Linked DNA regions of Homo sapiens: region 1 is linked to region 2. The links come from fine-mapping of genetic effects on gene expression. A gene starts in region 2. The other region holds a variant in brackets. All regions are shown on one strand. Distances are from middle to middle.

Region 1 (8,332 bases), 52 kb before region 2:
GCTGAGACAGAAGAATTGCTTGAACCCAGGAGGCAGAGGTTGCAATGAGCCGACATTGCGCCATTATACTCCAGACTAGGTGACAGAGCAAGACTTCATCTCAAAAAAAAAAAAAAAAAAAAAATTGTAGAAGTGTTTTCTATCCCTAGTTGAGAACTGAAGAAGAGAAATCTAACCAGAGAATTTGGTAAGCACATCTTATATGCATTTTTTAAAGACATTAATTCCAGTTATCCCTGGTACTGGGACTGCAGGTGATTTTAATTATCTCCTTTGTGTTCTGTGTTTCTCCAGGGCCACTGTTAATTTTATAATTAGCTTAAAATTTGTTCAAATAAAGTAAATATTATAAAGAGAAATTGTCTTCAGTAGTTAAGAAAAGGATGAAATTTTGAGTTTGAGGGTAACTAGGCTGGGCATAGTGGATTATGCCTGTAATCCCAGCACTTTGAGAGGCTGAGGCTGGTGGATCACTTGAGGTCAAGAGTTCGAGACCAGCCTGGCCAACATGGTGAAACCCCATCTCTACAAAAAATACAAAAATTAGCTGGGCATGGTAGCATGTGCCTGTAGTCCCAGCTACTCAGGATAATTGCCTGAACCCGGGAGGCAGAGGTTGGTGTAAGCCTAGATCATGCCACTAAACTCCAGCCTGGGGAAGAGACAGAGCAAGGCTCTGTCTAAAAAAAGAAAAGCAAGAAAGAAAGAGAGAGAGAGAGAAAGAAAGAAAGAAAGAGAGAGAGAGAGAAAGAAAGAAAAAGAAAGAAAGAAAGAAAGAAAGAAAGAGAAAGAAAGAAAGAAAAATAAACTTTGACTTTGAGGGTAATGAAAAATTGGAACAGTTTCCTAAGAAAGATAATCATAATTTCCATTTCTGTAAAACTTTATAAAATTGTATTAGACATCTTTGGTTTAAATTTTCATTTGTTAAAGGCTATGGTGGATCAGATGACCTTTTGCCACAAAGCTTTCATAGCAACCGAAGAGCAGTGTTTAGAATATTTTTCACTTAAATAATGAGGAAGAACAGGGCTGACTGCACGAGGTGGAAGAATCCAGATTGTGCAAATGGTCTTCCGTTCTGCAGCCTCTCTGCAGTTGTTGTGGGTTATTAGACTTCCGAGATCTAAATATTCTCCCAGAGTGTAGGAAACTCCTCCTAAAGTTTTACATAAAATATAATCTCATTATTTCAGAAATAGACTGGGTAAAACTAGTACCATGAGAAGAAACAAGCTTTTCAGTTAAGACCGAGTTTAATTCTGGTTTTTCTAAGAAATAAAGACTTTTATTTGTTTGATTCCAGAGAACCTCAGGGGACACCCGACTGAGACAAACTGAAAAGTTAGAAGAAAGAATTTCCAGATTCCAAAAATAATTCAACAGAATGACTCTTTTCAGAACGTTAGACAAACCTGTATTCTGTAGGTATGTTTTAGAATCTCATAGGTAATCACAAGATTATAGATGACAGGGAAGATGAAAAAGTCAAGGAAGCTATCAAAGTATTGGAAATGGGCTGGGTGTGGTGGCTCACGCCTGTAATCCCAGCACTTTGGGAAGCTGAGGTGGGCAGATCACCTGAGATCAGGAGTTCAAAACCAGCCTGGCCAACGTGGTGAAATCCCATCTCTACTAAAAATACAGAAATTAGCCAGGTGTGGTGGCATATGCCTGTAATCTCAGCTACTCGGGAGGCTGAGGCAGAAGAATCACTTGAACCCCGGAGGCAGAGGTTGCATTGAGCCAAGATCACACAACTGCACTCTAGCCTGGGCAACAGAGTGAGACTCTGTATCAAAGAAGAAAGAAAAAGCATCAGAATTGGCAAAACTGGAGGAAAAGAACAAAAAATGAAGAGAACATCAGATAGGTTACGAAGATAATCAGTTTGGGTCAATTCCCCTAAAACATGGGAGCTGCCATAGACCCCTCAAGGCAATAGTTTTCAATTGGGAACCATTTGGGTCCCCAAGAAGTTATCTGGCAACGCATGAAGACATTTTTGGTGGTGGGTGCTACTGGCTTCTAATAAGCACAGGCATACTGCTAAACATCCTATAATGCACAGGAAAACCCCTTAAAACAATCCAAAATATCAACTGTGCCAAGATTGAGAAACCCTACATTGAAGAATACTGGCCCTACAGAAACACTGAACAGACACTGTAATTCACAAAGGGAATGTTATTAATACAGCTACCTATAAAGAAATACCAAGGAAGCTGGGCGTGGTGGCTCACACCTATAATCCCAGCTTTTTGGCTGATTCAGGCGGATCACCTGAGGTCAGGAGTTCGAGACCAGCCTGATCAACATGGAGAAACCCGGTCTCTACTTAAAAATACAAAATTAGCCAGGAGTGGTGGCGGGCCCCTTTAATCCCAGCTACTCAGGAGGCTGAGGCAGGAAAGTCGCTTGAACCTGGGAGGCAGCGGTTGCGGTGAGTCGAGATCGTGCCACTGCACTCCAGCCTGGGCAACAAGAGCGAAACTCCATCTCAAAAAAAAAAAAAAAACTACCAAGGAATAGCTACCTATAAAGAAGTCTCCCCAAGTTAACTGAATACTTAAAATTTGAATACTTAATGGTTTTGTCCTTAATCCCCGTTGGACCACTTTGATAAGGGCTACTGTGTGTCTGAGTGACCAACCCATGCCAGTTTGCCCAGGACTGTCCTGGTTTTAGCACTGAAAGGACAAATGAAGCCATTCTGTCCGCCAAGAGTACAGTGATATTTGGTCATCTGGAATTTTCTCTCTTTTGAAGAGAAACCTCAGATTCCTTCATGGTTTCCTCTGTGCTTGTTCTCACACATTACCAAGCTCCTGAGGCCTGGCTCCAGCAGGGAGAGAAAGGGTCTGATCTCAGAGGTGCTCTCTGATCCAGAGGAAGCCCAGAAGAAATGGGGGCCTGCCAGTGCTGGTGGCCAGGAGGGCATTGTTAATAGCTCATCTGGTTCTGTCGCCACCCAAGGCAGGGTTCTCCTTTGGATCGGACACTGGGGAAGTGTTCCTTCCCTGCAGGCTCACATAGCTTGCTAAGAGGCATCTTTCCTCACCTCCTCCTGGGGCAGTGCCCCAGGCAATGGAATGCATTCCTTGAGAAAGGATCCCTTACATGCTTTCCCTTATCTTTCCCAGATTATGCCCTTTCTTCAGCCTATTTCTTTTTTTCTTTCTCTTTTCTGTTTTTTTTTTTTTTTTGGGGGGGGGCGGAGACAGGGTCTCCCCCTGTCACCCACAATCATATTTATGCCTGATCAATTTTTTAAAAAAATTTTTTTGTAGAGATGGGGTCTTGCTATGTCGCCCAGGCTGGTCTTGAACTCCTAGCCTGAGCAACATAGCAACAGCCACCATGCCTGGCCTCCAAGCCTATTTCTTACAAAGGTGAAACTTTCTAACTACTACCTAGCCCCTGTGATCAACTTACATAACATATATGAAAGCATTTTGGAAACTGTAAAATATCAGACAAACGTAACATACTAACATCACAATGAGAAATCATTTGTCATTTTTCTTTTTTAAAAGAGACAGGGTCTCACTCTATCGCCCAGGCTGGAGTGCAGTGGCATGATCATGGATGGCTCACTGCAGCCTCAAACTTCTGGCCTCAAGTGATCCTCTTGCCTGAGCCCCTCAGGGTGCTGGGATTACAGGTGCAAGCTCAGCTCATTTCTATTTTTGAAGTTAGCAACTGAGGGTTGTTTCACTTTCTAGATACTTTAAATTCCCGTGTGGCAGGCACTGTTGTAAACACTTTGCATGTGTTATCTCATATAATATTCACAGAAATCCTGATGATGATGATGATGATACCCATTTTATAGATGAAGAAACTGAGATAGGATGACATTAAATAACTTTCCCAGGGTCACAGAGCTGGTGGAGCTGAGTGATTAGATTCAGACAGGCTGGCTCCAAAGTCCATGCTGAATGCTACCTGTGACTCAAGCCAGGAGAAAAAAAGGAGTTGCTCAAATAAAGCGTCCCTGGCAGTAACGAATCATTAACTTTCAGCCCACTCCAAGGAATGG[G/A]TGGCCTGAGGGTCACGTGCTAAAGAGGAAACCCTGAGTGAGTCAATCATGAACACATGACTGTTCTTAGTTCCTTATAGGTTTGCTTCCTCAAATAGCCTTCCTGGAGTGCTGAGCCAAGAGATGGATTGGGACCAGTTTCAGTTCTGGGAAAGGGGCTGAACCCCATCTAGCCAATGCCTGCACCCACGCTTCAGCTCTGTGCATGCTGGTGGCCGAATCTAACACAGGCCACAGGGACTTCCTCAAACTGGGAAATGCCTGCTCATGTTGTCAAGAGTCCTCAGCAACAGCTTGTTTGCCGACTAAACAAGGCTGCCACCTCACACAGGCAGCCTCAGAAAGATCAGGGAGTTAATAGTTACATGAAGACAGCTCAGAGAACAGCTCAAGTGACAGTCCAGACAAATGCAGATCGTATAATGGGTACCTGGTTAGATTCTGTTTAAAAAAAAAAAAAAGGATGTTCCTCTCTGCTATTTATTCCCTGTTCCAATTTTTTTAAAAATCCTGTTTTCCCTTTCCTGATCCTCCCTTATGGTATCTCATACTTAAAAAAAAAAAAAGTCTGGGATAAGCTGATAGTCACAAAGAAACAGGAATGCAACAAACCAGAAACCCAAAGCCCCAAATCTCTGCCTTATCACAGACCGTTTAAAACTCTGGAGTTTTTTCCTACTTCAGCACATATCTCAAGATTAGATAAATGTGGTACCATTGTGTTACTCCCTGGTGAAGAAACCAACAAACTGTCCAATAAAAATTACAGGAAGCTAGGAGCGGTGGTGCGTGCGTGTAGTCCCAGCTACTCAGGGGGCTGAGATGGGAAGATGGCTTGAGCCTAGGAGGTCAAGGCCAGCCTAGACAACACAGCAAGACCTCTTCTCTTAAAAAAAGAAAAAAAGAATTATAGGAGGTCACTGTTTTGGACTAAACTTCTGCAACTAGGGCCCAATAGACCAGACTGAAAATCAAAATGGAGTCACCCAGGCTAAAGTTCCACATCACAAAACAGAAACTAAGTTGTTGTCTGACCTTCTCAGTAATCAGGACGAAGAAATAACACCAAATTTCTTAAATGGGCCAGTTTCAAATCTTTAATTGGCATAATGAAACTCCCTGCTTTAATCCTTAAAGTAATCTGATGTTATTTTTCTGTTGTTCTGTCTCCTGTTGTCCCATTCCTTACAAAAAAAGTATCTTTGAAACAATTAATATACTTTAAGTTCTTTCCTTCTACTTTATAAAGCCAAGCTCTTCTGCTCGGCTGACTGGAACCCTTTTCCTATAATATGGAAGGAAGTGTTGCCCGATTCTAGAAACTCAAATAAAAGCAATTGAGAACTTTAAACTAAATTTGTTGCAATTTTGTCTTTTGACACATAGGATTTTCCTCCTGACACTTATAGACAATTGTAGAATAAATGGCCTCCCTCTGCCTCCATTTTCTACTTCCATTCATTTTCAGTGTTCTTAGCTTTTTCTTTCTACATGCCCACCACTTAGATTTCATTGTTCTTCCATCTGAAAGCTTTGCTTATGGCCTTTTCTATCATTTTCTCTTCTACCTTAACTTCTAGAGTTATTATGTTACCTAGGACAAGAGATATGACTTCTCACTGCCTCAGTTCCTCATCTGTAAATGGTGCTGTGTAGCAGGGCCTGCTGTAAGGGCTAAGGGGTAACGCACACAAAGTGCTTGGCACAATGCTACACACAGTAGGTGCTCAAAATGTGATAGCAAGCTGGGCACGATGGCTCACGCCTGTAATTCCAGCACTTTGGGAGGCCAGGGAGGGCAGATCACTTGAGGTCAGGAGTTCAAGACCAGCCTGGGCAATATGGTGAAACCCCATCTCCACTAAAATAACAAAAAATTAGCCAGACATGGTGGCGTGCACTTGTACTCCCAGCTACTCAGGAGGCTGAGGCAGAAGAATCACTTGAACCTGGGAGGCGGAGGCTACAGTGAGCCAAGATCATGCCACTGCACTCCAGCCTGGGCAACAGAGCGAGACTCTATCTTAAATTAAAAAAAAAAAAAATGCAGCCAGGCACGGTGGCTCACGCTTGTAATCCCAGCACTTTGGGAGGCCAAGACTGGCGGATCACGAGGTCAGGAGACTGAGACCATCCTGGCTAACACACTGAAACCCCATCTCTACTAAAAATACAAAAAATTAGCTGGGCATGGTGGCACGCGCCTGTAGTCCCAGCTACTCAGGAGGCTGAGGCAGGAGAACCACTTGAACCCGGGAGGTGGAGGTTGTAGTGAGTCGAGATCATGCCACTATACTCCAGCCTGGGTGACAGAGCGAGACCCTGTCTCAGAAAAAAAAAAAAAAAAAATGCAATAGCAAAGAAACAAATTGGATGGGAATAACTAGTTCAGATTCTCTAGGTAAAACTCTATAACTTTAAGGGTAATTATTTAAAAGTTATTAAAATTATAAAAAATAAGATCTGACTTAAGTGGGAACTAGATTACCTATTTTAGGGAGATGATATGAAGAAAATTTACCCATCTTATGGAGGTGGTTCAAATCAGAGCACTTCTCCATACACGAGTCAATCTACATTCCCAAGAAGCTCTGAAGCATTTTTCTCTGTGGGTCTTTGCTGGAGTTATTACATTGAGAAAGTAAACTTTAGGGTAATTTTTTTTTTTTTTTTGAGACTAGGTCTCACTCTGTCACCCAGGCTGGACTGCAGTGGCACAATCACAGCTCACTGCAACCTCTGCCTCCCTGGCTCAAGGGATCCTCCTACCTCAGTCTCCCATGTAGAGGTGACCACAGGTGCACACTACCATGCCTGTCTATTTTTTTAAATTATTTTTTATTTTTGTAGAGACAGGGTCTCGCCTTGTTGCCCAGGCTGGTCTTGAACTCCTGGGCTCAAGGGATCTTCCTGCCTTGACCTCCCAAAGTGCTGGGATTACAGGAGTGAGCCACCGCTTCCGGCCTACTTTTAGAGGATTTATAAATTCGAATTGGTCTAAGTTCCAACATGCCAAATATCCTGGACCTCTCACCAGTAAAAAATTTTCCTTCAGTTGAACTTGGTTTAGTTAGCAAAGTCAAATGAGTCCACTTCATGGATATTTTCTAAATGTGTTTCCTCATACTTTTTTTTTTTTAACTCTTAGAATCCAAGTGACTCATCTGTGTGCTTGAATCCTTTCCACTGTCTCATCTCCCTCATCCAAGTTTCTAGTACCTTCTCTTTGTTGTGAAGGATAATCAAACTGAACAACAAAAAGTTTACTCTCCTCATTTGGAACCTAAAAACTCTCTTCTTCCTGGGTCTGAGGGCTCCAAGAATCCTTGAATCAGTTCTCAGATCATTGTGGACACCAGATCAGGAACCTCAGGCACGTGGGAAGGCCAGATAATTAGGAGGGATGCTGAAGAGAAAGCCCGATGACCACAGCACGGTGATGGTTTAAAGGCCTTGAAATTTGGTTACCATCATTCCCCAACCCACCAACCGCCCATGGGCTGCATTCACCAGCACGCACTGGCAGCCGCAGCCACCCGTTCTCTTTCCTTGCATTGCTGAGCAAGTTTCCCATATCATTCAGTTAGGCTCAGCTCTCACACATATTGAGGAATGATCCCTACCACTGCTCGCACATGAATGGGAAAGGATGTACAATACATAAAGGCAGAGACAGGAGAATTTCAGACAGTGGTAAAAGTTGTGAGGTAAATAAAGCAGAGGAATGGGACAGAGATTAACAGAGATTGGTGAGAGAGAGAAGGCCACTCTGATATTTGTGCTGAGAGTTGAACAAAGAGACAGGGAGCCTAGCAAGGATCTAGGGAAAGAGCAATCTAGGCACAAACAAGGGCAAACGCCCCATGGCGGGAACAGGTTTGTTCATTTTGTTTTCGCTTTAATTCCAGGAACAAGAATCTGTGGCTGGAATCTGGTAATGGAGGCAGAGGTGGGAGCACAGAGGTTGGGAGGTGGCCAGAGGTCATGAGCTGAAAAACTCATGAGCCATAGGAGGGAGCTTGGGTTTTAGTCTAAAGAAAAGGAGAAAGCCGGGCACGGTGGCTCAGGCCTATAATCCCAGTACTTTGGGAGGCCGAGATGGGAAGGTTGCTTGAGTCCAGGAGTTCGAGACCAGCCTGGACAATATAGTGAGACCTCATCTCTACAAAACATTTAAAAATTAGCTGAGCATGGTGACATGCGCCTGTAGTCCCAGCTACTCGAGAGGCTGAGGTGGGAAGATCCCTTGAGTCCGGGAAGCAGCGGTTGCAGTGAGCCGAGCTCACACCA
Region 2 (8,332 bases):
AATTTTTGTACTTTTAGTAGAGACAGGGTTTCACCCTATTGGCCAGGCTGATCTCGAACTCCTGACCTTGTGATCTACCCGCCTTGGCCTCCCAAAGTGCTGGGATTACAGACATGAGCCACCGTGCCCAGCCTAAGCCATCTTTTTAAAAGTCACAGTGCTATTATCATCACCAACTTGGAACCCTCGTTTTTGAAACACAAATGGTTTACCTGAGCTTACAAGGCTCAAATACACATTTTCAGAATAGGAATTAAATTGATCTAAGAGAAACAACACCTGAAAAAACCCTGTCCATTTTGTACTTCTGTACTTTTTGTTTTTCTTGGGGCACGTGAAATGCTTTACAAACATGATTGAGCCAGGTCTCAGTGCTCTGAAAGGTAGATACTTTTTATTATAATATTAATATGCTGACATTTCCTTGGTCAGGTACAGGCGTCCTGTTCCTGTTTCAGCTGCACAATGCCCTGCATTCATTGTACACTCACCCACTGCCCATTGGTACATATACTTAACTCTTGCTCACCCACATGTGGATTATCCATAGCGTCTGGGAACGGGTTGTCTTCCACCCCAGCTGGTGGATACTCAGGGAATATGAGCAAAACTGACAATTCATTGAAGCAAGGCACAATCAGGAGGCTCATTCAGCGTACACCCACCAGGAACCCACTGTGGTCTTCGTGCAGGGCCACCATGTTCATGAGAACCACAAATATATAGCATCCCCAAAGACAAATATCGTGATTTGGGGAGACTGGATGTTGTTTTCTTGATTAATGTGGCTGAGTGTAATCTATAAATAAAGCATACATTTTGCAGAACCAGAAATCTCCTGAGACCAAAAGATTGATATTTTCCTAAAACACAAAGGGTTTTCAGGGTTACACTAGCACTCTGTCTTCTCCCGATGTCATCTCCCTGAAATGGCCTTCAGAAAAGCAGAGATTGTGCTTTTGATTTCTAAAATGACTCCACTCTAAAAGCTTTGATAGGGTGCACCAAAAGAGCTACTATAGTCACAATCACTTTTACGTGATCAGCTTATTTATGTATTTTACTTTACAAACACATAAACCATATGCATCTAGACACACCCACAAATCGTTGTTTACATAAACTAAGTTCCTATGATGACAAAAATGGAAGATTCATAACAACCAAAAAAGATGCTCCTGTTAAATATGCAAGTTACATAAACTGAGCTGTAATTGTTTTGTTTTGTTTTTTCAGGTGTACTTAAACCACACAGAAAGTAGAGGAAAGGCAGACAGTGGGAGTATGGTTGAAGGGTTTGTGCCTTTTGTAATCAGTTTACTTTTGGTTTTACCAAGAGATGATATCTTGAATTCATTCAAACTAGTGTCTATTGCAGTACACTAGGAACATTTGAATTACAAAAGGAGAGGAGGAGCCTCCACTTCCCACAGTTGCTAGTTTACCTGCAATCCTTTGAGGGCAGTGGTAATCTCCATGTGAGCTTTCTGGTAAATTCCACACTAGGACCACATTCAGAACTTACCTGTTTCTTGGCCGTTTATTCCTCTAGACACTCTCTCCCTTTCTACTTTCGCTGGAAAATGAAAGTTTTCCTCCCCCACACCTTTTTCAGAGCAAAAGATACGAGAACCTTAAAAGCAGGTGGTCATTGACTTCAAGGGGACGAGATCGCCCTCCCCACTGCCTCTCCCCATACAGACGCTCACAGAATAGACGGGGAAGCAACTATGAGAGAAACAGAAGCAATCAGAACTCCAGCTCAGACGACCTCAGGAGTTTTACCAACAGGATGATTCAGGACCACACACAAAAAATGGCAGGGTGCCATTTCCCCCGAATCTCTCCCGCATAAGATGGAAACAACAACTTGAGGTGGCAACTGAGCAATTAGTTACTGATCATTTCTATGACAATTCTCTGAAGGCTCCAAAGGCCTCCTATCTTGAAACCCAGGTCATCTCTGCATTGCTATTATTGAAAATCTTTATCCAGTTGCTCTTTGAAGCCACTACTTGGAGCAGTAATGTTGGGACCAACACACACCTTTTATGATATTAAACCAGAAAATCAGCATCATCATTAAGACACAGAGACTGTTCCCAAGAGGGAAAGAAAATATATCTCCTAATCAGGCCAGTAGCTGAAACACTGCAATATAACCTGTAGCTTGGAATCACGGTGACAAGCACTTAAAGCTGCATTTAATGTCTTCATTGTAACTTCATCAAAGTTTGGCACACAAATTCTACCTTTATTCTAAGCATACCCTTTTTCTAAGTCTCATGAATCCCAAACTTAAACCCTCTTCAGAGTTTTTTTTCCCCAGAATTATGTATCTTCTGGGATTACCTAATCACAGTTTCACTTGAGCCTGGGTCCAATTTTAAGAAAATCTCCCTCCCTTCACGCTTATATCCACTCCCCTGACCTTTTCTGAAAAATCAAGAGACTTAAGATGTGGAGGCGGAAACTTACTGAAATAGCCAAATGCTTTTCTATAGCAATGAAAGCTCAGTCATTTGGGACATGATTTAATCTTGAGCTTCAGAGCAGAATTTGAAAAGCAAATTAAATCCTTTTGTAAGAAAATAATTTCATCTTAACCCAATCTTTTAAAAAATCATTACCTAGAACAGTAAACCAAATAGTCTAATATGAATGTTCTTATCATGTGAGGAAAAAAATGAGTAGTCTTTAACACTAGTTAGAGCAAGTCTATAGAACACGTGTCCAGAAGCATGTAGTTCCCTTGCTTTCTGTCTTTATTTCATCCTCAGTATCACTACTGCTTTGGGCAGAATTCTTTCAAAATTTAATTTAAAGCAGCACAGTGGGGGAATCAAAAATAAATATGTTGACTATTAAAAATATAGAGATTGGTAAAAAAAATGATGATGATGAATTCTCAATCCTACAAACTTCTGTAAACGCAAAAACCAAGAGGAAGATAATAAATCTTTAATAATTGATTGATATTCAGAATATCTTGATCTAATTAATTTAAAGCATGGCCTACCTAGCCAGGTAAAGGACGGCACAGCTAGGCTTATTTCTTCATTTGACACATACTGAAAGTTAATAATGAAGCTAGGTGCTTGGGAAATTTCTGAGACCCCATCCTTCCAGCATGCAATAATTAAGTCAAAGAGGCCAACAGTGTGTATATCAGAACAAGGTGAAGGGTAAAGCAGACCAGAAAAAAATATTAAAAACCAAACCATCTCCTCCTTTCTTTTTTTCCTTCTGTTTTCCTTTCAGACTGGGTTGATTTTAGTTCCCTCCAAGACTTCAAGTCATTGATCTAACAAAGATCATTGTTTAAATTAATAGCAACACAAACTCCCACAAAGTGATCTCTTCTTATGCTCTAGGTTGAGTACTTTGGTTTATCTAGAGGTTGTGTGTTACGCCGCTGACCACCTTTCACCTTTTAGAATCGGCACCTGCAATTCTCAAATGCTCTGGATCTAATTGCCAACCTTTTGAGCTCAAAACTTCGGCAACTCCTTCATGTTGGGTTGTCAACCCTTTGCTTTCCCTCCCCTGAGAAATTCGTATGACCTTGCCTTAAAACTTTTAAAGAATACATTTTAAAATCTATATTCCTGCTAAAGAAAACAGTGAGTCATTAAAATACCACCAGATAAAAAAAAAAGGTTTGATTTTTAGTTCAGGTCGGTAATGGCCTGTAAGTACCTTGAAGATGGTATCTTCCTATCACTTATGCCTTGGGACAGTACCCAAGAGTGGCTGAACTTTTACCTAATTAAAAAATGAGTCATTTATTTGAAAAATTCCACTTCCATTTATTTTATCTGATTTCTTAAATATCCGGTCAACTGCTAATTTGTCAGATGTCATAATTCGTCAGTCCTACCCTTTTCTACAGGCTGAATTTTTAATTTGAAACAACTACACCTCTACCGAGTGTTACTTTCAGACGTAAATTACTGCAGGAAGACCCCCCTCTGCCTTGGTTAACACTTAAATGAGATGCCTCCTGTCCAGGACGCTTCCTCAGTCTCACTGTAATAATCTGAGTCTAAAGTCACCTGTGCTTCTGGGCGGTCCAATCATGTATTTTCAAGAGTGAAAAAAAAAAATCAGTTTCTTTTATGGGAAAAGATTCATCACTACAGGAAACACGATGGGACTGACTGTATATGATTATCTGCCTTCCCAGAGGTTGACCCTTTTAAAACCGTTTTATAAACCCTTTATTTCCCACTAAATATACCAAGAGACAGAAGATGAGTGATAGCATGAGGGATAAGAGCTAAAGAGAGAAGAATAAGAAAAAAATATACACTTCAAAAATTGGGACCCAAATGTAAGATTAAGGGACAATAGTTAGAAGGACTACCAAAAACCACCTTACCTTTCCTTGTTAAGTTTTTGGAGCCGCCCACTTCAGAAATTAACACCATTCACAGCCCAGGAGCAACTTAACACAGCTAGGAAGTCACCTACAACATCTTCTCGTCCGCCTTCTTTTTAATGTAAAACCAAAATAAGGAGTGTCCAGCGACTCCCCACCGCGCCGCTTAAAGCAACAGAGCGTTTTAGGCTTAACTCCCAGGCTCTGGGAATTCCAGTGGGTCAGAATTGCTTAACCTTGGAGACTTGCAGAGAGAAAGTCTCCAGGAGGACCGCTCCCCAAACCCTGGTTTCTCTCTATCCCAAGCTGCACATTCCACAGTGGAAAGCGGGAGCGGCGACCCGAAGGCAGCGAAGTTCTCTCGGGCTCAGCTCCCGAGGCCGGGAGCGCGCGGCGGTTCCACCCGCAGAGCGGCGCCGCGTCCCGGCTGCGTGGGGCGCTGCGCACGGGAGCGCTCAGCGTCTAGTCTGCGGGCCCTTCCCGGTTCCCTCCCTCTCTCCTCCCGCCGCCCGCCCCCTGCCGAGGCCATCCGCCTCACAGTAGCAAGGTTGTCTCTCGTCTACTCCCTTCCCTTAAACTCACCAAACCAGATTTTTACTCCCAACACCGGCAACTTCCCGTAAATCTGCCCTGAAATTTTATCCTGCTGGCTGAGCCTCCCCTGGCTAAAGGCCAGTGCCACATTCCTGTTGTTTTTTAGGAGCGCAGATACCTTTGCTGAAGGTTCAAAGAAAATCGGCCTTGATGGCAGAGATTGGGGGACTTGACCAGACGGACTTCTCTCCCCGCCCCAAAAGTCACATGCCTTTCAGACACCCAGAAGTGGCACCTGCTCCACCTGGGGGCATCTGTCCGAGTCAGACGCTCGGCCCCCTTCGGGCTGCTCCGAGAAACCCAGCCAGAACCACGTTGGAGAAATTAGGAACCTGCTGCTGAATTTCAAGCCGATCGGAACCGCCCCGCTCCCCTTCTTCCCCCCATAAACAAGTCGCTGGACGAGGTGGGATCTCTGCGACCCCCGCGTGCCCGGGGAGAGCTCCCGGGGCGAGCTCCCGGGGCGTCCTTACCTGGGGCCGAGCATGGCTTGGCCGCGCGCAGGCAGGAGCGTCACGCGGACGGGGCCCTGACCTTTGCCGGGGCCTTCGCAGCAGGGCCTGGGGCCTGGGCGCTGCTCGTTCAGAAGTGGCTCATTTTAGTGCGCTCTGACCTAGAGTTACGGAGGGTTTCTAGAAAGGGAACAAAAAAACACTGCATTTAGAAACAGCAGCCAAGCCCTCGCTTCACCTTGCCTGCTCTCTGGGGAGTTGGCTCGAACCCCCACCCCATCCCAATTCCCAAGAAACCCAGATGTCCGCAATCCGCGCCCCACCCCCTCCGCCTTACCTGTTTATACAAGAGTTAAGGAGCCTCCCGCATTTCAGTGGAGCGCTAAGCCTGTTTGTAGGCGCGGAATGGGCCAACAGGAATCGAATTCTGTGACTAAACAAACTAGAAGAGGAAGCAGGCACCACCAGGAACCTAAAACAGAGTTGTGATTTCGGGTTGCAGTGTCATTCAGCTGAGGGGAAAGAAAAAAATACCGGGCTACTTTAGTGAAAGAATGTTCCAAAAATGGTTCTTTGCTGGTTGAGTTAACACATGCAAAGAGCTTAGAACGGTGCCTAGCACACAGTGTTAGCTGCCGTTATTGTTGTTGTTATTCTTCTTATTATTATTTACATTATGGCTTTTTTCTGAAGAAGAGTGTGTGGTCAGAGTTAGACATGGGCTGTAGCACCAGCATTGCCACTCACCAGCTGTGAGGCCATGAGCAAGATATTTAATCTCTCCCAGCCTCAGTTTCTGGAAGATTCTAACGATGGGATTTTTACAAACAGTTTATATTCATTGCTGACAGTCTTGAATACAATGGGAAATAAAGTCCCTGTAAAGGGTAGCCAACTGAATTTCATCTCACTTAAAAGTTACAAGATTGACAACAGAAATGGAGATAAATTTGCCTGCATTCCATGAAGCTCACTAACGGGAAGGAAATTCAGGGCCCAGCAATCACCCATCTGCTATGCTTAATTCTCATTTGTATTTTGGCACTTGACCTGGTGTCTTACCCTGGGATAGTTACTTATCCCAGACTGGGCCGGACAAATAATGACCCTTGCCGTTTGAAAAGCAGTATGAAAGAGAGGGAAATGATTTTGAAACTCCTCATAAATATTAAAAAGTGATTATTGAAGGCTAAAATGTTATCAGTGCCTCCACCCTTTATCCTCCATTTAACTTCACATTTAAAGAAAGAAATCATAATCCCTTTCCATTAGTGAGGCCCTTTCTACTTTATGGAGCACTTTCACCCTTCTTACTTTATGTGATCCTTACAAAATGATCCTATGAGCTATTTTGTCCCCATTTTGCAGATGAAGACACTGAGATCACACAGGTTAAGTGTAAGTCCAAGGTGGTGAGGCCAGGACTGGTTCTCAGTTCTAGTTAATTTTTTTTTAAGTTGAAAAATCAAACTGGATTTATTAAAATATATATAAATAACCCTCATTTTTCTTTATTTCATCAGTATTGGAAAGTTAAGTGAAAATTAATTAAAAAGTAGTAGTCCTAAGAGAGAGAAACAAAGGCTGAAGGGGTATCAAGAAAACCATAAATTTAAAAAGCAGCATTTGCCACCTTTGGGAAAAATGATTCCTTAAAACCAGCAAAGCATTCTGGAACATTTTAAATCCTTCTGATCTTTTATCTTCTCATGAGGCAAAATTTAACCCAGACAAATTCAACATTTCCTGTGTTTTAGGTTCATTCTTTGTCGATACCAGCCAGCATGTACTGTGAACAGCAGGCAGTGGGAACTCTCTTAGCTAAGTTCCCTCACCAGACCTAAGGGTTGATGCTGCCAGGCACAAACAACGGCTCCACCCCCTTAAGACAACTAAAAAACCCAGCTCCATATTAGCCTGAAATTTTCTTTTCTTTTCCAGAAGTATCTGGATTATGGCCTCAAAAAAGGCTCGCTGTCACAGACTGTCTGAGCTGAAGGATTCTAGAGGGGACATTCTCGCTGGGCACGGTGGCTCACGCCTGTAATCCCCACACTTTGGGAGGTCGAGGCAGGCAGATAACCTGAGGTCAGGAGTTCCAGATGAGCCTGGCCAACGTGGCGAAACCCCGTCTCTACTAAAAATACAAAAATTGGCTGGGCATGGTGGCAGGCACCTGTAATTCTAGCCACTCGGGAGGCTGAGGCGGGAGAATGGCTTGAACCCGGGAGGTGAAGTTTGCAGGGAGCCGAGATCGCGCCACTGCACTCCGGCCTGGGCGAAAGAGCAAGACTCCGTCTCAAAAAAAAAAATAAACACATAAATAAATTTAAAAAATGATAAAAATAAAAGAAATTTGAAAGTGTGGAGGTCAGTGACTCCAGGTGAACTGGAACTGGAGTCAGGGAAAACTCCTGCTTGAGGAGGCTCAGGTTCCACTTCAGGAAGTGAGTCCTCATCTCAAAGAGGGTCAGTTACCCTTTTTCAGATGTTGCCTGCTCCTTCTTCAGTTTTGCCCACTGACACCTATGAAATGGGTATATCCTTTCTTTCTTTTTTTGCACTCCATATCCGCTGGAGAAATGGGTATAATTCTTGTTCCTATTTCTCACTGCCCTCCCCGGGAACATGACAAAAATAAAACAGATTTTTCTAAGTGGCAGGCTATAGCAAAACAAATGTGAACTTTTATTATTTCTTTTTTGTGGCTAACCTTGGCGCCTGTTTTATTATTATTATAATTATTTTAATTCTTAGGCCCACTCCATTTTCCTGGGGCATTTTAGTTTTCTAGACCCTTGTCTTTTACTTTCTGTTTTCTTCTTTTCCTTCTGCCTATGAGGCAATGTTCCGGAGTGAGTGCAAACAGCATGAAAATTAGTTTCCAATAGATTTGAGTTTGAAT

Evidence for each region. PIP is the estimated chance that this variant, and not a neighbour inherited with it, causes the effect.
Region 1: its variant is fine-mapped to the expression of RBM47 in whole blood (TOPMed, PIP above 0.99).

What each region holds. Positions count from the first base shown.
Region 1 is chr4:40,573,051-40,581,382 of GRCh38, forward strand. The region is part of intron 1 of RBM47 (RNA binding motif protein 47); the gene reads right to left. Among named protein-coding and RNA genes, the nearest start is that of RBM47, 53 kb to the right of the region's middle. RefSeq lists enhancers at 4,089-4,258, 4,279-4,478. The variant G/A (reference allele first, on the strand shown) is at 4,043.
Region 2 is chr4:40,625,015-40,633,346 of GRCh38, forward strand. It overlaps RBM47 (RNA binding motif protein 47), which reads right to left and starts at 4,850. Exons shown (of 7, transcript NM_001098634.2): 1 at 4,382-4,850. RefSeq lists enhancers at 3,707-4,583, 4,584-5,461, 4,644-4,713.